3 linked regions of the Homo sapiens genome follow. The protein of the gene in region 3 purifies or fractionates together with the protein of the main gene of each other region. This does not show direct contact. Each region holds a gene or a part of one and is shown on either strand. Other genes may lie near its edges. The genes, in order: FKBP14, AADAT and SPACA3.

Region 1 (11,174 bases), on a different chromosome or scaffold from region 3:
GGAAAGACTTCCCAGAGACCATAATTGAAATGAACCTTGGAAGATGGGTGGAGGTTTCCAGGGGGAAAGTAGGGAAGGATGTTGTAGGTAGAGGGAATAACATGAATTAAAACAGTAAATCTTCATAGCCCATCCTCCACCTGATTTTCTAATAAACTGCCTTTACTGGGCATTCAGACCTGGTCTGTCTTGAGGGTTGGGGAAATGAATGGGGCTCTTCTCTAAACTGTTAGCCCTGGGAAAAAGTTCCAGAAAAATGGCTTGCCTTAGAATTCTCAACAGCCCTTTCTTCTTGTCAACTAGGTGAGTGCCACGGTGGATATTAAATGATGTGATTTGCATTTTGAAAATTCAGTTATATTGTTATTTTTAGTCTGATCTCTTTTAGACTCAGCCTGACTTCTTTCAGATTTCTGAACCAAAAACCTGTGCTGACTTTGGTGGTAGCCATGGAATATTATTTAGCAGTTTGCTACTAAGTTCTAATACCTGATGAGGGGACTGTTATCATGCAGCCTCCATGTAAATGGTCAGAAGCTGCTAACTGTAAACTTCATGAAGAAATACCATCAAATTGGCTGGGCGTGGTGGCTCACGCCTGTAATCCCAGCACTTTGGGAGGCCGAGGCAGGCAGATCGCGAGGTCAGGAGTTTGAGACCATCCTGGCCAACATGGTGAAACCCCGTCTCTACTAAAAATACAAAAGTTATCTGGGCGTGGTGGGCACCTGTAATCCCAGCTACTCAGGAGGCTGAGGCAGGAGAATCGCTTGAACCCAGGAGGCGGAGGCTGCAGTGAGCCAAGATTGCGCCGCTGCACTCCAGCCTGGGCAACAGAGCGAGACTCCGCTCTGAAGAAAAAGAAATACCATCAAATGATCAGTTTGTAAGCACGTTTGCCATCTCTAGAACCATAGCCTATGGGATAAATTGCTTAGCCCTAAGAAGAACTGTGCTAAAATTGTAGTCAGTGATGAGTAGTAGAATGTTTCCTGCTTCTTTTTTCATTTCTAGCCTTCCCAAATTTTCTACAGTTGGCATTTTGTTACTTTGATCATTGGGCAAAATTACAGGAAAAAATGGCATTACCCAGATTTAGTAACCATGGTACTCATGAAGCGTAGTACAGTGACTTCTTTTTCTCACCTACAAGATATCCTTGAATAGAATATTTTCCTTATTGCACTGAAAGGGAGCTAGGTAGGGATCAGGCATTACTCAGCCCTTAAGCCTCCCTGTATGTAGTTCGGCAGGTTGGTTTTCCTAGGCTAGACTCTCTTCAACTCATGAGCCAGGACATTCTATTTCCCTCGTCCCCAGTTGATAGGGTTCCGCTATGGCCCCACCCAATTCTCATCTTAAATTGTAGCTACCATAATCCCCACATGTTGTGGAAGGGACCTGGTGGGAGGTAATCGAATCATGAGGGCAGGTTTTTCCCATGCTGTTCTCCTTGTGATAGTAAATAAGTCTCACGAGATCTGATGGTTTTATAAAAGGCAGCTCCTCTGCACACTCATTCTTGCCTGCTACCATGTAAGACGTGCCTTTGCTCCTCCTTTGCCTTCCGCCATGATTGTGAGACCTCCCCAGCCATGTGGAACCGCGAGTCCATTAAACCTCCTTTTCTTTATAAGTTACCCAGTCTTGAATATTTCTTCATAGCAGTATGAAAATGGACTAACACACCAGTCCTTGAGGGGCTACTCTTCCAGACTTTCCTATATAGCCCCACTGTAGACCCCTGAGGAGGAAACTGGGCTAGGGTCTGAGTGGGGATTTAGGGATGAAAAGCAGCCTTTTCTACCCGTCAGAGCCATCAGCAGGCCATAGCTAAGGCAAGTTTGTAGGCAGGATATAAGACACTGTGCTTCTCACTCTTCATATCTGTGTGCATATGGACCCACATATGTTGGCAGTAAATTCTCCTTAGCCTTTCAATCTCCTTCCCAAACTCAGCCATTTTTCCATTATTTTCTCCTTGTTCTGCAACCTAGTGGCCTTCCTGGGACAACATAACTTTGTGATTAAGACCTTGAACTTTGGAGTTAGGTTTAAAGACTGGAACTTAACCTGTGTTTCCTCATCTGTGCAATGGGGTAGTAATGGTACTTATATTATAGACTTATTGTAAGGGTTAAGAGGCAAAAAATAAAATAAAATTTAGAATAATTCCTGGTATACAACAAATGTTCAAATGGTTGTTGTTTTTATTATTTCCTCTGTCTTTCTTAAGCCCAGTCAAGTATGTGAAATTTGCATCAAGAAAGATGGGCAGTGAATTGAATTCCTATAAACTTGACTTGGAGGTGTGTGTGTATGTGTGCAAATACAGAATTGCTGTATTTATAAATTTTTAAACTAATAAACTTAACCACTTACTGGTGGGAAAATGCACTAAAGAAAATTTTTTAGAGTTAATAAGGAGTTCTAATGTGTTTTATTTCTATCATAGTCACAAACATAACAATGGTCAGCCCATTTGGTTTACCCTGGGCATCCTGGAGGCTCTCAAAGGTTGGGACCAGGGCTTGAAAGGAATGTGTGTAGGAGAGAAGAGAAAGCTCATCATTCCTCCTGCTCTGGGCTATGGAAAAGAAGGAAAAGGTAATAGTATTTCTGTATTTTTCTTACTATAGCACTAGAGTTGTTCTCTGGATTAGGAGACAGAAGTTAGAGTCACTATAACTTTTTTTTTTCCCCTGGAAGTTAATAGGGGGTATGTATTCCTTTAGCAACTGTATTATGTCTTGAGTATCAATTGAAATGGCCAGTTTAAGGCCGTAATGTCTAAATGGGCAACTATGCTAACAATAAAAAAAGAACATTGAGGTCTATTAATACTGTTCACAAATATGGTGGGTTGTTTTAATTGTGATAAAATATACATAAAATTTTTCATTTGAACCATTTTTAAGTACACAGTTCAGTGGCATTAAATACATTCATGTTATTGTGGAACCATCACCACTATCCATCTTCAGAATGTTCTCATCTTCCCAAACTGAAACTCACCAATTTACTTTAACAATGCAGAGAGAAAGATCCATTAACGTAAGTGTTTGGATGAGTTGAACATGTGAAATATAGATTATTAAAGTATTGAATGCATTTTAGATGTGGGTTATATATGGGTTGTACTTCATGAATATTAAGTCTCCCACAGCAAACTGGGAGTTCTTTTCATTCCCGTTTTTAAATTTATTTATAAAGTTTTTAACAATGTATTTAAAAAAAATCATAGAGTGACATGAAATGAATTTAATTCTCCCTGTGTCACAAAGCAGAAGCAAGCTGGCTAGCTGGTCCGGACAGCTTTTGTACTAGTTTTTCAGGGCAGACACATATCCTGCTGTTCAAGTGAGAACCCCTGCAACTTTCCAAAGAGCTGCTTTGTGATATATATCAAGAGGTCTGGGCCAGGCATGGTGGCTCACACCTGTAATCCCAGCACTTTGGGAGGCCAAGGAGGGTGGATCACTTGAGGTCAGGAGTTTGAGACCGACGTGGCCAACATGGTGAAACCCTGTCTCTACTAAAAATACAAAATTAGCTGAACGTAGTGGAGTGCACCTATAATCCCAGTTACTTAGGAGGCTGAGGCAGGAGAATTGCTTGAACATGTGAGGCAGAGGTTGCAATGAGCCAAGAACGTGCCACTATACTCCAGCCTGGGGGACAGAGCCAAACTCCATCTCAAAAAAAAAAAAAGAGGTCTGAAGATGTCTATATGCATTTATTCTATAATTCCTTCAAACCTAAGGGAATAATTAGATATCAGGAAAAAAATTTGTGAACAGGGATGTCCATAATTGCATTGTTTCTAAGCAAAAAATTGGAACTGTCGTAAGTGGTATACTGGTAAGAATTTAGCTAAATAAAATATGGCCCAGTTATTTAAAATGGCATTTCCAAAGAGTTTAAAAATTATATCTGAAATGCATGAGATACAGTATTATATATAAAAGTAGAAAATAAACCTATAGTATATATGATAGTAAATATAGGAAAAGGTACATATACATAGAAAGTTAATCATAAGGAAATAAATAAGAATGTTAAAAATGGACTGTGATACTGGGAATCATATTTATTTCTGGTTTTATCATCCAAGTATGTGCTCTACAATGAGCATGTATTACTTACATAATGAAGAAAAAAAAGTTTAAGTAGTCATCAGAACCAGACAGACAACTACTCTGATATAGTATAAATATAGACTTCATAGCATCCTGAAGTCTAAGGTTAACCACTGACAAAAGTGAGGAGTCAGGATTCACAGCCCATTTCCTGAGAAGGAAAATAGATGCCATATGGCAAGCATTATATATTCCAAAATATACAAATCTATACAAATCTTGTTCATAGGATAAGATTAACTAACCAAATTCAATTCTTCTTTTAGTCATAATCCTCTTTAGAGAAGAAAACCAAGTATCTAGAAAATTTTTTCTGATGCTGAGAATGTTTTCATTTTATCTTTATTGTCTCACCTTTAATATTTACATACAGTAGTTCCCCTTTACCTGTGGTTTCACTTTCTACCGTTTTAGTTACCTGTGGTCAACTGCAGTCTGAAAATATTAAGGTATTTTGAGAATGAGAGACAGATTGCATTCATATAACTTTTATTATGATATGTTGTTGTAATTGTTCTATTTTATTATTTTTAATCTGTTACTATGACTATTTTATAAATTAAACTTTATCACAGATATGCATGTATAGGAAAAAGCATTGTATGTATGGGGTTTGGTACTATCCATGGTTTCAGGCATCTAATGGGATTCTTGGGACATATCCCAGTGGGGACTACTGTACGTTGTATTAGTCCATTACTCTTTCTCATACTATATTTAACTCAAGTTTACTTCACAATAAGTAGAGATCTAAATTTGAGTCATTTCCTTCAAACTGAATGCCATGAAACTAATTTTTCTAATCTGTATTTAACACTAATTTTGTAGTCTTTTAGTACATGCTTGCATGCCTCTTTTGGAAAGATACCAGTTTTATCAACAACCTAGCGCATGTCACATCTCTGTCTAGATCTGAAATGGTAAGCTTCAGCACACTTTATAAGTCTTCTCTTTGGAATTTATGAATGTTCTTTCATGGAAATATGTGGGATGGGGGGAGGATGACTAAGAAATATTTAACATGTTTACACAGACCTGTATGTTAAATATAGTTATAAGGAAACAAGTTTGAGAAAAACAATTGTCCATACTCCACAGATGGGTGTGTTTGTTTGTTTGTTTGTTTGTTTCAGGTTCCTGGGATTTTAACAAAGCTCTTTTCACTTTTAAAGATTTTTAATTTCCCTTCTCAGAAATTCATTTTAATTTCTCCCCTCCCATGAAATGTCTTCAACATATATATAATGTTCTATATCAGAGGTAGTGTTTCCTAACTTTCTGAAATTGTTAAACCTTCCTGCATTATTTTTAAAGCCTGTGAGAAAATTATACCTCAATAACATGTATTGAGAGTTTACTATTTGTCAAGTTTAATGCTAAGTATTTTGCATGGATTTTTCTCCCTTTATCCTCCCAACAGACTCCTGAGGAGGAAATTTATTATCTGCATTTTATAGATGAGGAAATTGAGGCTTAGAGATGGGCAAATGTAAACTTCAGCCTCAGACAGTGTGACACCAGAGCTTACTCAATTATATGGGTAGAAATGCCTTCTAGTGGTAGAAATGGCAATACTGTATGTATTTCTAGGTCAGGACTTTCTGACCAAAAAGTTAGTTTATTACTTTTAATATACTTAACTCCGAATTATCTAAAACCCTTCAAGTCCTTCTTGACATATAATATGTAATATATTAATTATATTAGAAATGTAATACCTAAGCCATTAGGTACATCTCTATGTATGTATATGCATTGTGTGTATGTGTATTTACATTTTAATTGCTAAGCCAAAGATAGAATGCTTTTGCTCTGCTAGTGTATATTATTTCTTCTTTTACTCTATTCTATTCGAGTAAAATATAATATACATAATTTTCATCATATATGACAATCTTAGGAAGGCTCTTTAATTCAGTTAAAAAAAATACTTTGTCCATTACCATAAATTTTCTATTATTAAAACTTTTGGCTCTTTTAAAACTTTCTGCCTTCTTTCCTCACGTCAGGTAAAATTCCCCCAGAAAGTACACTGATATTTAATATTGATCTCCTGGAGATTCGAAATGGACCAAGATCCCATGAATCATTCCAAGAAATGGATCTTAATGATGACTGGAAACTCTCTAAAGATGAGGTGACCTTTCCTTCTTCCTACTCCTCTTTCTACTTTTCTTTGGTTGTTTGGGGTTTTGTTTTGTTTTGTTTTTGTAACTCACTTTTTAAATGAATATGTGTATATTTCAAATCTACTTTTATTTAGGTAACATTTATTTATAAGTTTTCTTAAAATACTGATGCTTTGAAAGTGGACTTTTTCATAGTGAATCACTGTTTTGGAGAGAAATATATTAAGACTTAAAAAGCACCATTCAATCTTTTGCTTTTTTCTTCCCAATGCTTAGGGTTCACTGTATCTTATGCTTACCCTTGGGTCTTTGAAAGAACAATTTTGCCAAGACAGTTTCCATCTGGAGTTACTGTATAAGAAGCTAGCTGTCCTGAGAAATATCTCATGTGGACAGTTTCTGTTAAAACTGTAGACTGGCTGTTAAATACATCTTGTAGTGTTTTCCTGGCAATTAACAGCAAGCAACTTACATGCTCTGTTTTGTTCAGGTTGCCCCAGAGAAAAGAGACCCCAGCCTGGGTTTTACACAGCAGGGCTCCAGCCCCATCAAAATCTGAGCCTTTGGGTAAAGAGAAAGGAAGAAGAGGCTTCTCCTTATAATTCGGCCATTGCTACACATACCTGTCTTAGTCTGGCTGCTGCGGGGAAAGAAGTGGAGGGAGATATTTATTCCTGTTTTTTATCTACTCACACTCCATTCTGTCCTGACTGGTCAGATATCAAGTCCCTTTCTATGCTTTGATCAAATTCATTCTAATGGCCAGGAAATGATTAAGTCTTGAATAAGCCAAATTGTTACGAACCAGGGGTTCATGATCCACAGCCACTAAATTTATAACACCTCATAGTATTACCAGTCACATGCCTTTTTCTTCCATCCAAGATAAATTTTAATTCCCTTTCATTAAATAATTTTGAATATATAACACAGTCACATGGTTCAAAACAAAAATCTATTTATTTATTTATTTATTTATTTATTTATTTATTTATTTATTTATTTCCTGAGAGGGAGTCTTGCTCTGTTGCCCAGCCTGGAGTGCAGTGGCAAAATCTCGGCTCACTGCAACCTCTGCCTCCTGGGTTCAAGCAATTCTGCCTCAGCCTCCCAAGTAGCTGCACCATCATGCCTGGCTGATTTTTGTATTTTTAGTAGAGATGGGGTTTCACCATATTGGCCAGGCTGGTCTCAAACTCCTGACCTCGTGATCTGCCCACCTCGGCCTTCCAAAGTGCTGGGATTACAGACGTGAACCACTGTGCCCAGCAGAAAGATATTTATTTAAAAGTCTTAGCTGGGTGAGGTGGCTCACACTTGTAATCCTACCACTTTGGAAGGCTGAGGCAGGAAGATTGCTTGAGGCTGAGACTTCAAGACCAACCTGGCCAACATAGGAAGACTTTATCTCTATTATTTACTGTTTTTTTTTTTTTTAGACGGAATCTCACTCTGTTGCCAGGCTGGATTGCAGTGGTGCGATCTCAGCTCACTGCAGCCTCTGTGTCCCGGGTTCAAGCGATTCTCCTGCCTCGGCCTGCCAGGTAGCTGGGACTACAGGTGCACGCCACCATACCCAGCTAATTGTCGTATTTTTAATAGAGACAGGGTTTCACCATGTTGGCCAGGATGGTTTCAAGCTCCTGACTTTGTGATCCGCCTGCCTTGGCCTCCCAAAGTGCTGGGATTACAGGTGTGAGCTACCGCATCCGGCCTATTATTTACATATTTTTAAAAGTCTTTCTCCTACCTACATCCTCTTCTATTCTATTATCCCCACATCCAGTTTTATTAATTACTTTTTTCTTTCTTTCTGTTTTTTTTTTTGTAGAGATGAGGTCTCGCTATGTACAAGCATGCACCATTGCACCCGGCTTAGTTTTATTAGTTTCTAATATATCCTTTCAGTGTTTCTTTCTGCAAATCCAAATACATAGTCTTATTTCCCCCTTTCTTACACAAAAAGAAGCAAACTATACATGCTGTTTTGTCGTTTTGCTTTATTCACACAATATATCCTAGAAATACATTCTACATTAATCCATAGAGTTTAATGGATTAATGGATCTCTCCCCCACCCCTTTTTTTAACAACTGCATTAAATCACTTTAACTTAAAAATAAATATATACTATATGTGTACTTCTTGAAAGCTGGGGGAGAGAGGATTTGAAATTGCTGGTCTAAACAGAAGGAAGAGAGGTGATATAATTAAAACTGAAAATATAGGCTGATTTTCATTGTGGTGAATCTTGTGGGAAATTGAAAACAATATTTATATTTTTAAATATCTGAATGAAATGAAAATGGAGTCCGGGCATGGTGGCTCACACCTGTAATCCCAGCACTTTGGGAGGCCAAGGCAGGCAAATCTTCTGAGGTCAGGAGTTCGAGGCCAGCCTGGCCAACTTGGTGAAACCCTGTCTCTACTAAAAATACAAAAATTAGCCAGGCATGGTGGCAGGTGCCTGTAATCCCAGCTACTAGGGAGTCTGAGGCAGGTGAATCGCTTGAACCTGGGAGTTGGAAGTTGTAGTGGGCCGAGATCGTGCCACTATACTCCAGCCTGCGTGACAGAGCAAGACTCTATTTCAAAAAAAAAAGAAAAACAAAAAAACAAATGAAAATGGAAAATTGTAGTCTAGGCACTTATCAGACCTGACTTTCTGAGATTGAAAGGTTGTGATTAGACTCAATCTAATCACATGATCATAACCAAAACCCAAAAGACCCACTACTTGCAGACATTTATTCAAGTCAAAGATGCCACTATTTAATCTAGTTTTAAGAGAAGTGTCCATGGGGTGCAGTGGCTCATGCTTCTAATCCCAGCACTTTGGGAGGCTGAGGGGTTTAGATTGCTTGAGCCCAGGAGTTCAAGACCAGCCTGGGCAACATGGTGAAACCCCATCTCTACAAAAAATATAAAAGCCAGATGTGGTAGCACATGCCTGTAAGTCCCAGGTACGTGTGAGGCTGAGGTAGGAGGATTGCTTGAGCCTGGGAGGCAGAGGTTGCAGTGAGCTGAGATGGTGCCACTGCACTCCAGCCTGGGTGACAGAGCAAGATTCTGTCTAAAAGGCCGGGCGCGGTGGCTCACGCCTGTAATCCCAGCACTTTGGGAGGCCGAGGCGGGCAGATCACGAGGTCAGGAGATCGAGACCATCCTGGCTAACACGGTGAAACGCCGTCTCTACTAAAAATACAAAAAATTAGCTGGGCGTGGTGGCGGGCGCCTGTAGTCCCAGCTACTCGGGAGGCTGAGGCAGGAGAATGGCGTGAACCCGGGAGGCGGAGCTTGCAGTGAGCCGAGATTGCGCCACTGCACTCCAGCCTGGGCAACAGAGTGAGACTCCGTCTCAAAAAAAAAAAAAAAAAGATTCTGTCTAAAAAAAGAAAAGAAATGCCTAGTATTTAGATTCAGATTAAGAACAAGTAGTATGCTCTCATTGGGTATTCTCCAATAATATAAGCCCTATATGAGGATTGTATACATGACATAAGCTTTATCTCTGCCTTTGAGCAATATATATATAGAGAGAGCTATATATATATATATATTTTTAATTTTTTAATTTTTTATTTTTTTGACAGAGTCTCACTCTGTTGCCCAGGCTGGAGGGCAGCAGCGCAATCTCGATTCACTGCAACCTCTGCCTTCCAGGTTCAAGCGATTCAACTGCCTCAGCCTCCTGAATAGCTGGGATTACAGACGCATGCCATCATGCCTGGCTAACTTTTTTTTGTATTTTTAGTGGAGATGGGCTTTCATTATGTCGGCCAGGCTGATCTCCAACTCCTGACCTCAAGCAATCTTCCCACTTGGGCCTCCCAAAGTGCTGGGATAACAGGCATGAGCCACCACACCTGGCCCTGCCTTTGAGCAATATTTTGTGTCTCCACTTTAGCAGTTTAGCAACAGTTTTTTTAAGGGAAAAAGTTTCTATTATTTTTTAATTATCATTAAAACTATGTCATAAAATGGCTGTTTAGAAGGTATTATATTTAGTTAATGAACTAAATATAATAACAGTCCATGTCTGTGATATTGATTGGCTCAATGTGGGTATCTTATGAATCCAAGTTATTAATGGGATCTGTTATTTTGTAGGTTAAAGCATATTTAAAGAAGGAGTTTGAAAAACATGGTGCGGTGGTGAATGAAAGTCATCATGATGCTTTGGTGGAGGATATTTTTGATAAAGAAGATGAAGACAAAGATGGGTTTATATCTGCCAGAGAATTTACATATAAACACGATGAGTTATAGAGATACATCTACCCTTTTAATATAGCACTCATCTTTCAAGAGAGGGCAGTCATCTTTAAAGAACATTTTATTTTTATACAATGTTCTTTCTTGCTTTGTTTTTTATTTTTATATATTTTTTCTGACTCCTATTTAAAGAACCCCTTAGGTTTCTAAGTACCCATTTCTTTCTGATAAGTTATTGGGAAGAAAAAGCTAATTGGTCTTTGAATAGAAGACTTCTGGACAATTTTTCACTTTCACAGATATGAAGCTTTGTTTTACTTTCTCACTTATAAATTTAAAATGTTGCAACTGGGAATATACCACGACATGAGACCAGGTTATAGCACAAATTAGCACCCTATATTTCTGCTTCCCTCTATTTTCTCCAAGTTAGAGGTCAACATTTGAAAAGCCTTTTGCAATAGCCCAAGGCTTGCTATTTTCATGTTATAATGAAATAGTTTATGTGTAACTGGCTCTGAGTCTCTGCTTGAGGACCAGAGGAAAATGGTTGTTGGACCTGACTTGTTAATGGCTACTGCTTTACTAAGGAGATGTGCAATGCTGAAGTTAGAAACAAGGTTAATAGCCAGGCATGGTGGCTCATGCCTGTAATCCCAGCACTTTGGGAGGCTGAGGCGGGCGGATCACC
Region 2 (11,174 bases), on a different chromosome or scaffold from region 3:
GTATGCTCCAGTTGTGGACATTTCTGTCTTAAAGTAGACTGCCCCAAACAAACCTAATGCTCAGCAATGTGCTCTGACCAGTGCAGAGCAGAGTCAGATCATCAGCTTCCTCATTCTGTAAATCACAGTTCCACGGATCTAACCTTGGAATGGAAAGTCGTCATTATACCATATAAGTATACTAAACTGACATATAACATAGTTGTACTTATGCATATGGTAATAAGATAGTAATAAAAAATAAATTTTTGTAATTTAAGTTACATTTCAAGTAAAATATTAAGAGAATTGGACATGATTTTGCATAATCTAATTTTAATGCCTATACACTTGGATTTCAAAAAAGAAATGTATAAAGAAGAGAATACATTTCACATACTTTGTATATATCCTTTAAGATTATCCTGCTTATGGATAAAATATGCTATTTCATTTTTCTGTGGACAGATTATTTTAAAGTTAATAAGATATTAACTTTATTATAATAAAGTTATTATAAAACCTTTATTATAAGTTTTCTTCTTATTTACTACAAGAGAGTTGCCTTTAGTAAAAATGTATACTCACACTTTGAAGAGTTCCTGAATAAGCAGGTTCATCTAGGAGGACATTATCTCCAGGATTAATGATCATTTCAAACACCTAACAAAAGAAGCATAGGTTAGCTTGTTAGTCAGCATAGGTTAGTACTGTTTCCATGCTCAGAAGCCCATTTTTTAGTTTGAGCTCACATGGTTCTAGAGTAAGAATTAGCAAATTGTTTATAAGGGGCCAAACAGTAAACACTTTGCGGGTCATAGTATCTCTGTTGCAACTACCCTGCAACTACTCTGCCTCTATAGTGAAAAAGTAGCCATAGACAATATATAAATGAATGGGTGTGACTGAGTTCCAATAAAACTTTATTTACAAAATTTGATGAAGGGCTGGATTTGGCTCTCAAACCATAGTTTGCCAACTCCTGTTCCAGAGAAAGGTGAACAGAGGTTTGGCTGCTAACATTCATTTATTCCTTTTATTGCTTCTTTGAAAATCTATTAAATGTTTACTATACGCCAGGCCTGTGTAAAGTGTCAGAGATAAAATAGCAAAATGACATGGTTCTTACTCTCATGGAGCTACTGGTCCACTGGGAAAGCTAGACACCAATTAAATAACTACCCAATAAATGTGCAAATTAAAAACGGTGGTGAGTGATATTAAGTACAGATGCACAATGACATAAGAGCTCATTGTAGGAAGACCTAGGCATTCAGGGAATTCAGGGAAGGCATCCTGGAGGAAGCGATGAGTTGGTGTACGGGGTAACAACAGTTAGATTTGAAAAACCAAAATAATTATGTGTCTTGAGGCAGAATGTAGAGAAAAGAGTGGTGTGACATCAGACAGAAGTGGGCAGAGACCAACCATGTAGGCATTTGAGCCAAGGGAGGCAAGTAAGGATTTTAGGAAGAGAGTGGGGAGGAGGAGTCACATGATTAGATACTCGTCTTGAAAAGATCAATCTGGCTGCAGTATGAAAGAATGAAAGAAGGGTGAGAATACATGTGGAAAGTTTAGAAAGTTTTTAGGATTGTTTGGGAAGTTACTGCCACAGGCCTGGAACAGGTAAGGGTCATCTTAAAGTAGAGTGGTGACAGAGGAATTGTAGAGAAGAACTGAGAGGTATTAGGAAATGAAAAGTAATGGAACATGATTATGGACAATAGGGAAATGAGGAAGAGGAGGTGTCAAGAATGATGCCTAGATACTTGGTTATGGAACTAGATAGATGGTGGGGGTGGTGCCATTCACTGAAACACATAACCAAAAAGCCATCCATATCTGAGTGACAGGATGATTTGTTTTAGTGTGAGGTGCCTTTGAAACACCCTGTGATGATGTCAGATGGATAGATGGACAAATGGATTTGGAAGGAGCCTGGAAGTTACTGGCATATGGTTGATCATGTGAATGTAAATGAAGATACCCAGGAAAAGTACATAGACTAAGGAGAGATGTTTAAGGACTGAGCTACAGGGAACTCCAATAAATAATGGCTGGGTAGAGGAGGACACTGCAAGGAAGGGAGGGAAAGTGGGCTGGAGGAGAACCACACAACATGCTACTGAGAGAGCTAGAGGAGGACAGTGTTTTCAAAAGGGTGGGGGAGACTTCCAGTTCCAAAATGGTGGTGTAGAAGCAAGTTGACTTCATTCCCTCCCACAAAACCACTAACAAATATACAGTGCTAAAATTTACACCAGAAACAACCCAGAACTCAAATATGAGGATGAGTCAGTTCCTAGGACTACAGAGAAGTGAAAAAACTCTGAACAGATGGTAAGAAAGGCATACTTCAGCATCTATGATACCCCTCCTCCCAATTCTGCCTGGCACCAAGCACGTGGAAAAACTCCCCCTAATTCACGGCTTCTACACTGGAAAAAGTGAGATTGAGGTGGCCAAGAGTTTTCCCCACCATCTTTGGTTCCCTGGCTGGAGACCTGTCCTTGCCTTTAACCCTTTGGAAGCATCATGACTGCCTGGAGGGAAAAACATCCCTGAGGACAGGCAGAGACAAAATCGGGAGGCAGGACTACCATCCCAAGCCCTGGAAACTCTGCACTGTAACTCAGCGAAAGGCATGCCAAAACAGAGTGACTGTTCAGCAGCACCACACTGCAGGAGGAATGTTCCAGAGGTTCCTGGGTATAATTCTTTTGCTAGCCATCTCATGCCAATGGAATAAATCCTTTGGGACCTCCCTGATTTGGGACAGGCTGTTCTCGAATTATTTACTAAACCTGGACTTAAGGTGCCACCTTGGAAGATGCCAACAAGGAAGCAGTGACCCAACAATAGAGATTTACTAAGCAAATATATCCAATAAAAAGCAAAGCAAGCCAGACAAATCAAACAAACAAACAAAACTAGAATAAATAACTAATCCTTTAATGCAAAAAACTGATGTATACATACAAGAAACAATAGCCAACAGGAAACCATGACCTCCCCAAAATGACAAAGCAAAAATCCAGTGACTGATCCTAACAAGATGGCAATTTGTCAGCTTTTTGACCAAAAATTCAAAATAGCAGTTTTAAGAAAACTCAGTGATCTTCAAGGTAACTCAGAACAGCAATTCAGAAATTTATCAGAGACATTTAACAAAGAGATTGAAATAATAAAAATAACAAAAAACCCCAGAAATTTTGGAACTGAGAAATACTGAACTCAGAATTGTTGAACTGAGGAACTCATTAGAGGCTCTCATCATCAAAATGGACCCAGCAGAAGGAAAAATAGGTAAGCTTGAAGATTGGCTACGTGAAAATACAGTCGGGGAAAAAAGAAAAAAGAACAAAGAGTGCCTACGAAATACAGAAAATTACCCCAAAAGACTAAATCTAAGAATCAGTGGTCTGCAAGAGGAAGGTGAGCAAAAGCAAGCAGTACAAAGCTTATTTAAAGAAATAATAACAGAAAAGTTTCTAAACGTGAGAGAGATAAATATCCAGGCCACAGAAGAAGGTCTGAGAACATCAAACAGATTCAATCCAAATAAAACTACCTCAAGGCATATAAGAATTAAACTCTCAAAGGCTAAGGACAAAGAGAAGATATGAGAAGCAACAAGACAAAAGAAGAAAATAATACATACATGAGCTCTAATTTGTCTGGCAACAGACATCTCAATGGAACTGTACAGGTCAGGAAAAAGAGAAATGACATTTTCAAAGTGCCCAAAGAAAAAAGCTGCTATCTAAGAATATACATATATTTTTATTGATTGATTGACTGAGATGGGGCCTCGCTATGTTAACCAGGCTGGGCTCGAACTCCTGGCCTCAAGCAATCTTCCCATCTCAGCCTCCCAAAGAGCTGGGATTACAGGCGTGAGCTACCATTCCCGGCCCATCCAAAAATATTGTACACTTGATCTTAGCCAAAAGGCCGAGAAGCGATCATCCAAGAATATTGTATCCAGCAAAATTATCCTTCAAATATGATGGAGAGATAAAGTCTTTCCCAGACAAACTAAAGCCGAGAGAATTTACCACCACCAGATCCATCTTACGAGAAATGCTAAAGGGAGTTCTCCAACCTGAAAGAAAAAAATACTAATGTGCAAAAGAAAACTTTTCAAGGTAAAAAATACAGTGGTAAAATTAAGTACATGGACAAACCCAGAATACTCTATGATTGTAATTATGGTGTGCAATCCACTCATAATTCTCATATGAAGCCTAAACGACAAATTGATCAAAAACAATAATAGCTACAGCAACATGTTAAGATAGGTAATATGTAAATTGAGACATCTCAAGCCAAAATGTGGGGGGAATGGAGTTAAAGAATAGAGGATTTTTTTATGTTTTTTGCATTTGTTTGCTTCTCCAAGATAAGTTGATCCAAGATAAGTTGTTACCTCTTTAAAATAACTTGTTATAAGATTTTTTTTTTGTAAGCCTCATGGTAACCACAGTACAAAAACTTATTATTGATTCACTAAAAATAAAGAGCAACAAATTATAAAATACTACCAGAGAAAATCACTTAACCACAAAGGAAGACAGTAAGAAAGGAAGAAAAGAAGAGAGGAGTCTCAAAACAACCAGAACACAAGCAACAAAATGCCAGTAGTAAGTTCTAACTTATCAATAATAACACTGAATGGAAATGGTCTACATTCTCCCATTAAAAGGCATGGAGTGGCTGAGTGGATAAAGAAACAAGACCCAATCATATGCAGCTTACAAGAAACCCACCTCACCTATAAAGACACACAGTCTGAAAATGAGGAGGTGGAAAAACATATTCCATGGAATTGGAAACCTAAAAAGAGTAGGTGTAGCTACACTTAGAAAAAATAGACTACAAACCTAAGATTGTAAAAAGAAACAAAGAAGGTCACTATATAATGATAAAGGGGTCAATTCAGCAAGATAATACAACCTCCCAAGTATACAAATATTAGTAAATTTAAAGGGAGAGATGGAATGTAATACAATAATAGTAGGAGACTTTTTAACATTTCACTTAGTAATGAACAGATTATCCAGACAGAAAATCAACATGAAGAAACAGTGAGATAAAACTACATACTAGATCTAATAGACCTAGTAGACAGTTACAAAAATATTCAACCAACTGCTGCAGCATATACTTTCTTTTCATCAGCACAATGAAGAGTCTGCAGAACAGACCATACCTTAGGCTATAAAACAAGTCTGAACAAATAAAAAAACCCAAATCTTATCAAATATCTTTCCTGACCACAATAATAAAACTAGAAATCAATAACAAGAGGAACTTTATAAAATATGCAAACACACGAAAATTAAACAACGTGCTCCTGAATGGGTCAATGAAAAATTCAGAAGGAAATTAAAAGTTTTACTGAGATAAATGAAAATGGAAACGCAATATACTAAAATTTGTGGAAGACAGCAAAAACAGTACTAAGAGGAAAGTTTATAGCAATAAACGCCTGTTTCAAGAAAGTAGAAAGACTTCAAATTAACAACCTAATAATGCACTTCAAGGAACTAGAACAACCTACAGGAGAGGAGAAAATATTTGCGAACTACCCATCTGACAAGGGATTAACAAGTCAATAGCAAAACCCCCAAATAATCCCATTAAAAATTGGGCAAAAGATCTTAACAGACATTTCTAAAAGAAGACATAAAAACGGCCAAAAGGCATTAAAAAAGTTCAATATTACCAATGCAATCAGAAAAACCTCAAAACCACAATGAGATATTACCTAACCATATTCAAAATGGCTAGTTTCAAAACGACAAGTGATAACAGATGCTGATGAGGGTAGAGAAAGGGGAACCTTTATACACTTTAATGGAAATGTAAATTGGTACAGCCACTATGGAGAACAGTACAGAGGTTCCTCAAAAAACTGAAAATAGAACTACCATATAATCCTGCAATTCCACTGCTGAGTATATATCCAAAACAAAAACATCAATATATCAAAGAAGTATCTGCACCTCCATGTTTATTATGGCACTTATTCACAATAGCCAAAATATGGAACCAACCTAAGTGTCCATCAGCTGATGAATGGATAAGGAAAATGTGGTATACACACAATGGAATATTATTCAACCATAAAAAAGGAATAAAATCCTGTCATTTGCAGCAACATGGATAGAAATGGAGGTCATTATGTTAAGTGAAATAAGCCAAGTATAGAAACACAAATATTGCATGTTCTCCCTCATCTGTGGGAGCTAAAAAAGTGGATCTCATAAGGATAGAGAGTAGATTGGTGGTTACCAGAGGCTGGAAAGGACAGGAGGGAGATAGGGTGAAGGAAAAATAAAGAATATAAATGTACTTATTACCACTGAACTGTATACTTAAAAATGGCAAGGATAGCAAATCTTATATGTGTATTTTATGGCAACAGAAAAAATTAAAAATTAATTTTTTAAAATAAAATGGATGGGGAGATCAACGGAGTTAAAGAATATTTCTAGGTCAAGTAATAAAAGGTTTGACAATCTTTGTAAATTATGTGGATAATATGATTTCTACTACAATCACTAGAGCCAGGCAATAGATTTTTCCAGCCTAAATCAAAGGGGTCTATTATGACTAAATCATACATAAGTCACAGAATAATTGCTTCTTAACTTGTGATGTTTCACAATCCCCAGTTTGAGTCCTTTTTCCTATCACTTTAACAACCCACATCTCACCACAAACAGTAGGGCCATTATCAATTGAGATAGAAGATTTGACTTTTGTTCCCCAACTGACCTGTGATGTTGAATTTACCTTTTCCTTATGAGCTTTTGGCATCTTATGACAAACAGTATCCTCCTCCGAAAAGTTTCTAATTGACTTAAGCTTTACAAGACATCCTAGGACCAAAGGAATCACTTGGGTGGCAGCACGTACATATCAACAGATCAAATGAAAACCTAATTAGCGTTGATCCTTGAACAACATAGATTTGAACTGCACAGGTTCACTTACACGCACAGTTTCTTCTGCCTCTGCCTCCCGTGAGACAGCAAGACCAACCCCTCCTCTTCCTCCTTCTCCTCAGCCTAAGCAACATGAAGATGAGGATGAAGACCTATATGATGATCCACTTCCACTTAATGGTAAATATATTTTCTCTTGCTCATGACTTTCTAATACCATTTTATTTTCTCTAGTTTACTTTATTGTAAAAATATAGTGTACAATACATATAAAATATAAAATATGTGTTAATTGACTATATTATCAGTAAGGCTTCTGGTCAAGAGTAGCCTATTGGTAGTTATGTTTTGGAGGAGTCAAAAGTTATATGCAGATTTTCAACTGCATGGAGTCATTGCCCTTAAACCCCTGCGTTGTTCAAGGGTCAACTGTAAATATATTTTTCATATCAGTTAGGGGACATACAAATTTCAAATATCCTAAATTAGAAGGGAAGGCTGTTTATCATCTGGGAGCACTGTTTAAAAGATGAGAGAGAAACACAGGAGTCTAAAATAACATGACTCCTGGAGAACAAAGTGGAAGAAATATTAAACCAGATACATATTAGTGCCCCTATAATAAGCATGTCTGTAAGTAGTAAGTTATTGACGTATTTAGCAATCTATGCTATCTTCCTTTTTTGTGTAACTGGTGTTGTGATGGATAAAGAAGAAACTGTCTTGAGCAACTTTCTGGAAGAAAAAGTCCATAGTATCCTTTCTTGAGGAAAGAATTTATTTCATTAAAAAATACTCTTATATCATTCTATACAATCACAAATGTTTCTCTTCAAGCAAAGACTCAAACACTAGCTAATTCTTTTACTTTTCCTAATTAAATACAAAAAGGGTAAGTTTTTTTAATTTTTAAAAACTTTAAAAAATGTTTTTACTACTGTAACCCATTATTCTGTAACAATAATTTAATTAAAATTCATTAAAGCAAACCAGATTACAGTTTTCATATTTCCATGAAAAAGAAAACTACTCTGGTTTAAGATAAAGATAAATGGGAGTCATAGATTAATTTAGATCTGAGAATGAATATAGAGAATCTTATTATTCATGGAAAACAAAGGAGAAAATATACCAGCACTTTGGGAGGCCAAGGTGGACAGACTGCTTGAGCCCATGAGCTCAAGACCAGCCTGTCCAACATGGCAAAGGAATATAAAAATTAGCTAGGCATATTGGTGTGCACCCGCAGTCCCAGCTACCTGGGAGGCTAAGGTGGAAGAATTGTTGGAGCCCAGGGAGGTCGAGACTGCAGGGAGCCGTGATTGCGCCACCGCACTCCAGTCTGGGTGACAGGGTGAGACCCTGTCTCAAAAAAAAAAAAAGAAAGAAAAGAAAATAACAGATCAAACTGAGGACCACAGATGTGGTCTCTTTATTGTGGCAACTAACCAGTGGTGTTTACATCTGTGGAGTTCCCGGAACCCAGAAGGGAAGAAGATGGAATAACTAATGCCAGGGGGAGAGGGAGAGAGAACCAATCCATATAAGAAGTCAGAAATACAGACATATAAATAGATCTAGAGAAATACACCCAAGAGGGGGACAAGATACAAGCAGTGGCAAGGAGAGATTCTACAGACAGATATGTAAAAGAATATAAATATGTGTATCTCAGGAATATGAAAGCATGCCCTCTAAAAAATTTAAAAATTGTATTGAAATTTCCTAACTATAGGCGGAAATCAAACGTAACTTGAATTTTTGAGCCAGATGAAATTAAGCAGTGTTCACTAAGCTTTTGGTAGGAGTTGAGTACTCCCTTAGTGGGCATCCTGCTTTAATGGTTAATAGGTCTGGGTAATTGACCACATGCTCTGTATTTAATATTTAAGAAAGATTAGGCTAGTGAATGATGTTAAGAGCAGGTAATTTTTCAAAGTCCTTGTGTTCACAATGAGGAAAACTAGGGGGAAATATTGATAGATCAACCTACAATATTTCCACCTGGCTTTTGCTTACAGTCAACACCCCCTACCCACCCTTGCCCATCCCCGGCCACAACTGCTCCCACCCCCATCCTATGACTTGTCTTTTAGTTCCCTGTTTATAATTCTAGGTGAAGACAAGAAAGACTACCAGTAATCCATAAAATATAATTCTCTGTGGTTAAGTGCGAGAGGACTATAGAAATGAATGCTTCCAATTCTACATTTTGGCTGAGTTTTCCTTTCAGTCTTACCTTACAAAGACCTTGTTGGCTGCCAGATGTGACACATAGATCCATTTGTCCTTGACTGGGTGGGTAATGGATGGTAGGAGGATTATGCAATTTTATTTGTAACTGTTTTAGCCAGGACAAAAGCTCTGGAATTCTAAAGCAAAAAATGTATATTTAAATTCATAGTAGTAAAAATCATAGTAACAGTAGTAGACAGGAAATAATAAATGACAGCTTTATCAAGCACTTTGTACACTCAATTAAAAAACCCTCAAATGCTTTTTGCCAGTATGAATATTCCTATTTAAAAGATAGGCAGTAGACTTAGAGATTAGGAAATTCCTGTAAGTCATTCAGCCAGAAATTCTCAGAAAGTCAATTACGTAATAAATGAGCTGAGATTTGAATCTACATCTTTCTTATTCCAAACCTGAAGTCTTTAGCGCATGCGTTGCATAATCGATTCTTTGTTCTCTCTAGGAAGAGTTCTATGGCTACCTAGAAGTTCAGACTCAATAAGTTGTTTGTATCATGGAATGTTTGAATAAGCCTATGTATATTTAACATATTACATAACTAACACATATATACATGAATAACATTTCAATACACTTTTCAATCACAGAACAAAGCAGGTTTTAATAAAGTATAATTTATAGATTCTCTATAAATTATCCTTTATCACTTGAAGAAGACCAGCTAAGAAAGTCAAGGTATATGTTTCAGCTTGCCTTTAAGAAATTAAAGACATTTGAACCTATGAGGGCAATGTATTTGAATGGCTGCTTGTTTAGACTATAGAAATGAATGACTATATTCAATGTATTTGCATGACTGCTTGTTTAGACTATAGAATGAAGAAACGGAAGATCCAGGATGCTTAAACTTTAAAAAGTTGAAGCTTCCTGGATCTTCCGTTTCTTCATTTCTCCTGATATGTTTGTTTCACCTGGACATCTTCTCATTTTTTTGGACTCAGCTCTAATGGTATTTCCTTCTAGAAGCCTTCTTGGTCATTTGCGATTGAGAAGCAATCACTGAGGAGTGTTAAACATTCAATATCCTTTCTGTTCTTAATTATCCTTTGAAAACCTTTCCCCAGACCTTCCTAACCATTGAATACTCATTTGGTTAGTATTCAATGACTGAGTATTTGGTCATTGAATGACCAAATGGGTCAATGGCTTTAGAATATTTATGAATGGACCTTAGAATATTTCTTTAATATTCTTTATCAATGGGCCTTAGAATATTTCTTATGAAAATAAGCCAATAAAATTATGTTAAGTATTGATACTTACCCAGCACTCGGAGAATACTGAAGTGCTCTCTTCATCATCTCTTCTCCAAATTGGATGGTCTTTCCATTTTCTACAGTGATTACGGCAGTCTTAAAAGGAAACATGTTTGGATTTGGTAAGCCACCAGCCAAGGAGATCATCGATTTTGGTCCTCTGCTCAATATGTCAGCTACAATACACATGGAAGAGAAGAAACAATTTCATTGAAGATTGTTATAAGCGGATAGTTAAGCATGCATTATAGTCAATAAAACTATAAAGTTTAACGATTTCTAGTGATAGAGTGTGCTATGGTCTAAATGTTGGTGCTCCCCCAGATTCATACTTGGAAGTTAATACTAATGTGATAGTTTTAACAGGTGGGGTCTCTAGAGGTGATTAGGTCAGGAGGGATCCACCCTCCTGAATGGGATTGGTGCACTTATAAAAGAGGGCTGAGGGAATGCCCTTGGCCCTTCTGCCACGTGAGGACATAGGTTCTCCCTTCTACCACGTGAGGATGCAGCAAGATGGCTCTGTCTATAAGGAAGGGCTCTCACCATGGTGACACAGAAGCTGCTGGCACTTTGATCTTAGACTTCCTAGCTTCCAGAACTGTGAGAAATAATTCTATTGTTCATAAATTACCCAGTTTGTGGTATTTTGTTATAGCAGCCTGAATGGACTAAGACAAAAGCTAGTCTAAAATAAACATACAGAATAACTTTTTCTAGGCACCTC
Region 3 (7,705 bases):
AATGTAAGACTCACAACTATAAAAATACTAGAAGGAAACCTAGAGAAAACTCTCCTGAACATTAGTCTAGGTAAATAATTTATGACTAAGACCTCAAAAACACAGGCAACAAAATGAAAAATAGACAAATGGGACTTAAACTAAAAAGATCCTGCACGGGAAAAGAAATAATCAACAGAATAAACAACTTGTAGAATGGGAGAAAATATTTGCAAACTATTCATTCAACAGGGGACTCATATGTAGCATATACAAAGAACTCAAACAACTCAACGACAGAAACAATCCCATTAAAAAGTGGGCAAGCCAGGCATGGTGGCTCATGCCTAAAATCCCAGCACTTTGAGAGGTCAAGGCAGGAGGATTGCTTAAGTTCCAGGGTTCGAGACCAACCTGGGCAAAAGAGTGAAACCTTGTCTCTATAAAAAAACAAAAATTAGCCAGGTGTGGTGGCATATGCCTGTAGTCTCAGCTACTCAGGAGGCTGAGGTGGGAGAATTGCTTGAGCCCAGGAGGTCAAGGCTACCATGAGCCATGATCAAACCACTGCACTCCAGCGTGGGCAACAAAGCAAGACCCTTTCTCAAAAAAAAAAAAAAAGTGGGCAAAGGACATAAATAGTCATTTTTAAAGAAGATATATAAATGGTCAACAGTTACATGAAAAATGTTCAACATCACTGATTATAGAGAAATGCAAATTTAAACCACAATGAAATATCATCTCACCCCAATCAGAATATCTGTTATTAAAAAGGCAATAAACAACAAATGTTGGTGATGATGCAGAAAAAAGGGAACTCTTATACACTGTTAGTGGGAGTGTAAATTAACATATCTGTGGAAAATAGTATGGCGATTTATCAAAGAACTAAAAGTAGAACTACCATTCAATTTAGCAATCCTTCTACTGGGTATCTACCCAGAGGAAAAGAAACCATTATGTCAAAAAGACACCTGCATTCATGTTTATCAAAGCACTATTCACAATAGCAAAGATATGGAACCAACCTAAGTGTAATGGATGAATGGAAAAAGAGAATTTGATGTATATACACAATGGCATACTATTCAGCCCTAAAAAAAGAATGAAATCATGTCTTTTGCAGCAACATGGTTGGAATTGGAGGTCATTATCTTAAGTCAAAAATGCCAGGGACAGAAAGTCAAATGTCACATGTTCTCACTCCTAAGTGGGTGTGAAAAAATGTGTACACATGGACATAAAGATTGGAATAATAGGGGCCGGGCACAGTAGCTCATGCCTGTAATCTCAGCACTTTGGGAGGCCAAGGTGGGCAAATTACACAAGGTCAGGAGTTCAAGACCCGCCTGGTCAACATGGTGAAACCCCATCTCTACTAAAAATACAAAAATTAGCCAGGTGCGGTGGTGGGCACCTATACTCAGGAAGCTGAGGCACGAGAATCTCTTGAGCCTCGGAGGCAGAAGTTGCAGTGAGCTGAAATCGCACCACTGCACTCCAGCTTGGGTGACAGAGTGAGACTCCATCTCAAAAAAAAAGGACTGGAATAATAGACAATGGAGATTCAGAACAATGCAGGGTATGAGGGGGGTGGACAATGAAAAATTACTTAATGGGGACAGTGTACATTACTCAGATGAGGGATACTTTAAAAGCCCTGTCTTGACCACTATACAATCTATATGTGTAACAGAATCACACAGGTACCCCATTAGTTGTACAAATAAAAATAAATAAAATTTTTAATTTGTCTTACAAAAAATAAATTTAAAAAAAAGAAAGATGGATGGGTCATGGGTCCCAGGCCAGATGACCATAACAACAACCCCTTGGCAAAGTACAGTGAGTAAGCGTACATGTGGAGTCACACTGAGCTGGGTGCAAATTTATCTCATCTGAGCCTCTGTTTCCCCTTGTCTGTGGAATGGTGGTCATAATGGTAGCTGCATCATAGCTATTGTTCTAGGGTCTAGATTAGATAATGCATGGCACATGGTAGGCACACCGTGTTTGCCTTGATGTTAAAAAGACAGCAGCTTCTCCCTACTTATGATTTAATAGCTCCATTAGTCATTGATGCCCCTACTGCCAGCAGGGTTCTTCACCACTCTGTCCCCTTGCATGAGTCGCTCTCAAGTTTCATCATCATCTTGACCAGACCAGCAGGGGAAGGAAACTGGCCTGACTCGCTAATTGTGGACATTCCACGCCCCTCTGGTGTATGCTGACCCGGAGGCATTCAGGGTGGCTGAATTAGGTGGAGGAGGATGGTGGGGGGCGACAGTGTCGTCCCCTCCTCTCCCTAAGAGTCACCAGCCATGCCTCAACCAACAGTTCAGTGCTTACAGGTTTCTTTGGAACCTTTTCAGAAGAATCTACAGTCTGAACTCAGGGCTCAGGCTTCTCACACATCATCCTATCTCTGCAACTGCTGCTGCTGCCACCACATCCACTGCGATCCTGAGACCCACCCACCTTCCTCCTTTAGAGGCAGTCGTCCCAGATTAGCAGGGGACCGCGCTATCTTTTTCTGGGCTTCTCGTGTGCTGACTAAGGCAGAAGGCTGCACTGGCTGTGCGGATTGAAAGCCACGGTCACTCCCGTCCCATCCTCCAAACTCCTAGCAGTAGTGGGCAAAGTGAGCGCACCGTCTCTATCAGCGGCACTTGAATCTTCCGCCACGAGAGGGCACCAGAGAGCAAGGTGAAAGCAGAAGCTCCGGGTGGTCATTCTTCTCCCGCGACCAAGCAGCACCCCCGGCTTGGCAGGGGTGTGTGTTAGTAGTCACAGCTGGAGGGCCAAAGCACAGTGACCACCATCTGCAACCAAAGCTGCAGAAAAAAAGTGTCCCAAGAACCTTCCCAATCAAGCCAGAGGTGCACAGCCCTAGATCCAGCTAGGGTTGCCAGGTAAAACATAGGACACCCAGTTAAGTTTAAATTTTAGATAAACGTCAAATAGTTTTAATATAAATATGTTCCTATGCAATATTTTGGACATGCTTAAAATTATCTGTTGTATATCCAAAGTTCAAATTAAACTGGGGCATCCTGTTTTTGTTGTTTCTTATGTATTTGTTTTGTTAAATCTGGCCACCCTAGACCCAAATTTTGCCAGGTGTGGTAGACAAAAAATGCACTGGTGCCCCCCCCAAACACCTGCCCACAGGCCACCAGAAATGGAGGTAAGCCTCTGGTGCTGGGCTTTCTGGAGTCCACTGGAAACCCAGCCCAAGCGGACAGGTGAGGTGAGGGAAAACGGAGGTGCTCTGGCTCTGACATGGCACCTGCAGACACACTGAGAGCTGAGAGCCATATTCACGTTCAACCATCCTTTATTCGCTGGCTTGTCTTCCCAAGCCTAGGTCAGGAACCAAACCACATTTCCCAGCCTGCTGTGCATGGTTCCGTCCATCCTAGAAGTCACAGCCATCCACCCATTCAGTGAGGTCTTTTCCCTGGCAGTGATGCCTCCAGGCCTCCCTGAGGATGGAGAACAGGGAAGAGGAGAGATAATATCAGCTGCAGTTGCCAGTCACCGCCCAGAGAAGAACAAGAAGGAGAGTGTGGTCTCTAAACCAGAAGTGAGGAAGGAAAGGGGTTTGTTCCCTGCTGCTGCCCACCAGTCCTAACCATACCACCGCTGCGGGGCTCCAGCCCAAGTTACTTACCAGTAACCCAGACCCTGAGGCTCTTGGGTTATCTTCATGGCACAGATAACGGTATCCTTGAGATTAGGATTCAACAAATCTGGGGTGATAGGCAGAGAAACACAATGAGAGAACAGGAGACATCCAGGTGTGTGTGTGTGTGTGTGAGTGTGTATCTGTCTGTCTCTCTCTCTCTCTCTACACACACACACACACACACACACACACACACTCCACTCGCCTAAATCCAATCCTGTCTCAACCACTCCGGAAGCACAGGTACAACCCTATCCCTCTCCCCCTCCATCAGAAACAATCCTCCCTCCATTCCTATAGCCCTAAGGCAGTCTCCTATCTGGGACCCCAATTCAGACTGATGGAAGACCTACCCTCATCCCTTGTCCCATCTCCCTCTCCTCCGTGGGCCCAGCCTGATGTGGGGGAACCCTCACTCAGAGATGGGGGTAGCAAACTAAACTGGGAATGGAACAAAAGCTAATGCAGGGCCTGACTCCTGCCAGCCCTGGGCCCAGGCCCAGCTACCTGAGCAGTACATCCGGCACACGTTGGGGACGTTCGGGGTGAGGTTGCTGCACCACCTCCGGCTGTTGATCTGGAAGATCCCGTTGTTGGTGCTCCCATCAGCCTCGTAGTCCAAAGCAGCTGCGTTGAAACCGCTTGTGAAATAAGCAAGGCAGACCCCTGCATAGGGCAGAGCATAGGCCTGGGGGTCAGATGGTTACAGCCACCCCAGACCAGGGTGCTCACTGCACAGGTCCCACGCTGGCTCCACCGAGCCTCTCCTGCCTGATCAAGGTGATTGGGGCAGGTGCCTCCCACCTGCTTTGCAAACCAATCAATCGAGGCTTAGAGGTGCACAGCGACTCACCCAGGGTCCCATCCAGCTACCAAATAGCATGGGTTGGGGCTGGCCTCAGGCCTCTTGACTTTTAGCCCAGCAGTCTTCCCATTATCTCATTGTTCAGCACATAGTAGGGCCCAATAAATTTGTTGAATGAATCTACAAGTGCTAAATCTTTTTTTTTTTTTTTTTTTGAGACGGAGTCTCACTCTGTTGCCCAGGCTGCAGTGTAGTGGCGTGATCTCAGCTCACTGCAACCTCTGCCTCCCGGGTTCAAGCAATTCTCCTGTCTCAGCCTCCCAAGCAGCTGGGATTATAGGTAGCTGCCACCATGCCCAGCTAATTTTTGTATTTTTAGTAGAGACGGGGTTTCGCCATATTGGCCTGGCTGGTCTCGAACTCCTGACCTCAGAGTGATCCACCTGCCTTGGCCTCCCAAAGTGCTGGGATTACAGGCCTGAGCCACTGCACCCAGCCTACAAGTGCTAAATCTTCAGTAACAAGATTAGGAAGACCCAGGTGGAATCTATAGAGGGTGCTCGACCTGTTAGAAAGATGAGCCCCGGTATGACTGCCCTTCCCACATGGCCATCTAAAACTGCCACCAGCTTGAAAAGTTTGGCATGACTGCTCTGTTCAGTTTGTCTTTTCTAATTTCAGAAGGAATGTCTGATCCTTGTGGCCATAGTTAAGTTTAGGGGACTGAGCTGTTTGTTTCCTTTGACCCCGACTTTAGCAGCAGGGGGAAATGAAGGGGTGACTCCAATTTGGTTGCCTGCTGCCTGCCTACTGCGTGTTTTACTCCGTGCTGGCTGTTCTCTACCTGCCATCTCAAATCATCTTCAGTTTACAGAAGGGCTCTAAAAGCTCCCGAAGCCACAGCCCTTGAATGAGAAGGAGAGAGGGAGGGAAAGAGGGAGGGAGGTGTGGGGAAGTCAGGGCCCGCCAGGGAGAGGGGTTCTCACAGTCAGCCAGGCTGTATCCCCGGTATCCGTCCAGCCCGAAGTCATGTAGCACTCTGGCCAGTTCACAACGACCGTAGAGCTTGGCCTCACTGGAGGGTAGCAGGCAGCTGAGCAGACAGACCAGGGCCAACAACATGATCCCAGCTGGGCACCACCGCCTTCTGAGAGCCCTGCTCCTGGCTTCTATGCCGGCGGCAGAGGTGGAGCCACCACCACTCTGGCTCAGAGCTGAGCTTTGGGATGACAGGCAGCTCACCAGCCTCCGTGGTCCACTCACAGAAGGAGAAGAAACAGGGCTTGAGTGCACCCCTGGGAAAGGGGAGAGGAGAGAAGGGGTGGGCAGAAGGCCAGGCTCCAGCAGCACGTATCAGCCCCCTTGCATTCCTGATCAGCATCACCCTGACCCCGAGACCAGCCCCTCTCCTTCCCCATCCTGCTTCACACCACCCAGGCCAGAGACAGGAAGAAAACTAACCTATTGTAAGCTCCATATTACACGTTACGGATTATTTAGTCCTGAGGCCCAAGATTTTATAACTAGGAAGGGGCGAAGTTTGGATGGAGACAAAGTTCTATAAATCCAAAGCCCCACTGAGCAGATGCTCCCGGAGGGGATGGCCAGGCGGTGTGTTCATGGGTCTCTCAGCCCAACTGTCAAGGGACAGCCCTTCTGGCATTGACCCTCCATCTCCAGATCTTAACTGAAACAAGGTCTCCCCCAGAACACTGCTCCCCTATAGCCCGCTCAAGGGGAAGCTGCTCTTTCTCCACACACAAGACCCCAAGATGTCCCGAGAGTCTCCTCCACCCCCACCACCACTTCTAAACCATAACCTGCAAAAAGCCCTTCTCCCTGGAAGCCCAGCCTGCCCGTCTGGTTTGACCTCCCTGCCCTGTCATCATTGGCTGTGTGTGGCCAGTCCCCCAAATCACAGAGGACATTAGCACCTGGGTGTCACAGCATCAGGGCTCCTTCATCTCCCCAGACCTAGTCCCCTCCAGTTCCTCTGTGTCTCAGCCAGTCCCTCCCCTGCCCTGGTCATCCCTGCTTCTTGTCCTCACCCGCATTTCCCCACCTCTGTGAGCTCCTATCCCACTGCCCACCACCTCTGACAAGCCTTCCCATGCTTCTCTTGACCTCTGCGCCTCCACACCTGCTCTCCACCTTCACAGAGTCAAAAAGTGAAAGAGTTGTACAAACTCTTGTTTGTGCCAATTGGTGTCCCTGGTCTCCAACCTCCACGGGACCTTGAATGCCCCCGAGGATGACAAAGTGGTTGAGGTCATGGCTTTGCAGCAAGGTTCGGGTTGGAAGCCCCCCTCTGCTCCTTGCTCCATCTCTGATTTTGGGCCCTCCCTGAGGCTTGTTTCTTCCTCTATAAAATGAGGACGTGAGTAACACCTGCCTCATATGATTGTTGGAAGAATAAATGAGAAAAGGCGTGGGCACAGCGTAGCTCTTGGCACTAAAAATAAGTGAGTTGTTGTTTCTGTTATGAACTACAACTAACACTGGTACTCGCGCTTGTCTCTGCTCAGACTTCTCTCTCCCATTTCCCTCACAGGAAATGAAAACCCTCAGTATTGTCCTTTAGCACGCCACGCTGTCCCACCCCTTGGCTCTCAGAACATGATCTCGTCTCCTGCTGCACTAAGAAAAGCAAGGTGCTCACTTGTGGAATTTCTTCCTCTTTCTGCCTTAGCCCTGCTCACTTGCAAACTCATCAGTAGCCTCCTCGCCCTCATCTCCACCCCGTCATTGTTTGGGTACGGGGCCTCCAATCTCATGCAGGCCCATCTTCCCTCTAAGCTCTAGATTTGTCCTTCCCATCACCAAGCCTTGCTCCATCCGTTGTCCCTCCTCTCCCGGCGCGCTAGCACCGTTCCCCTCCTGCTCCTCCTTCCCCTGCTCGTAGAGACTTTCTCAGTCTCCATCTTCTAAATGCCTTCCCTCAAGTCTCATGCTGACTGCTACTCCCTTGTCTCTTTCCCCCTCTTCTCGCCCAAACTCCTGGGGAAAATCGCCACTTTCTCCCTCCCGCTTGTTTTCCAACCTGGTGAATTGGCCTCCCTGCCATCACCGCGCGCTGAAACTGCTCTGCGGGTCCAAGGAGGCCCCCTTCGACTCTGTCTCATGGGAGCTCTCAGCTGTACTCATGCCGTCCGCCACCCGCTGTTGAAAGGCTTGCCTCTCCTGGTTTCCACGATGCTCCCTTCTCCCAGGTTTCCTCCTCCCTCTCTGGC

Evidence for each region.
Region 1: the proteins of SPACA3 (region 3) and FKBP14 purify together in Homo sapiens (affinity purification with mass spectrometry; 2 studies listed by BioGRID and IntAct, with this or other methods). This does not show direct contact.
Region 2: the proteins of SPACA3 (region 3) and AADAT purify together in Homo sapiens (affinity purification with mass spectrometry; 2 studies listed by BioGRID and IntAct, with this or other methods). This does not show direct contact.

What each region holds. Positions count from the first base shown.
Region 1 is NC_000007.14:30,014,098-30,025,271, reverse strand, and holds part of FKBP14 (peptidyl-prolyl cis-trans isomerase FKBP14 precursor), read left to right. Parts: intron 1-2,455; coding exon 2,456-2,607; intron 2,608-4,967; exon of another isoform or gene 4,968-5,059; intron 5,060-6,148; coding exon 6,149-6,276; intron 6,277-10,378; coding exon 10,379-10,537; 3' UTR 10,538-11,174. UniProt on the Homo sapiens protein: PPIase which accelerates the folding of proteins during protein synthesis. Has a preference for substrates containing 4-hydroxylproline modifications, including type III collagen. May also target type VI and type X collagens.
Region 2 is NC_000004.12:170,077,942-170,089,115, forward strand, and holds part of AADAT (kynurenine/alpha-aminoadipate aminotransferase, mitochondrial), read right to left. Parts: intron 10,624-11,174; coding exon 10,455-10,623; intron 9,308-10,454; coding exon 9,175-9,307; intron 7,053-9,174; exon of another isoform or gene 6,808-7,052; coding exon of another isoform or gene 6,784-6,807; intron 643-6,783; coding exon 568-642; intron 1-567. UniProt on the Homo sapiens protein: Transaminase with broad substrate specificity. Has transaminase activity towards aminoadipate, kynurenine, methionine and glutamate. Shows activity also towards tryptophan, aspartate and hydroxykynurenine.
Region 3 is NC_000017.11:32,993,474-33,001,178, reverse strand, and holds the end of SPACA3 (sperm acrosome membrane-associated protein 3), read right to left. Parts: intron 5,771-7,705; coding exon 5,462-5,770; intron 4,359-5,461; coding exon of another isoform or gene 4,337-4,358; coding exon 4,178-4,336; intron 3,735-4,177; coding exon 3,656-3,734; intron 3,468-3,655; coding exon 3,401-3,467; 3' UTR 3,302-3,400; downstream 1-3,301. UniProt on the Homo sapiens protein: Sperm surface membrane protein that may be involved in sperm-egg plasma membrane adhesion and fusion during fertilization.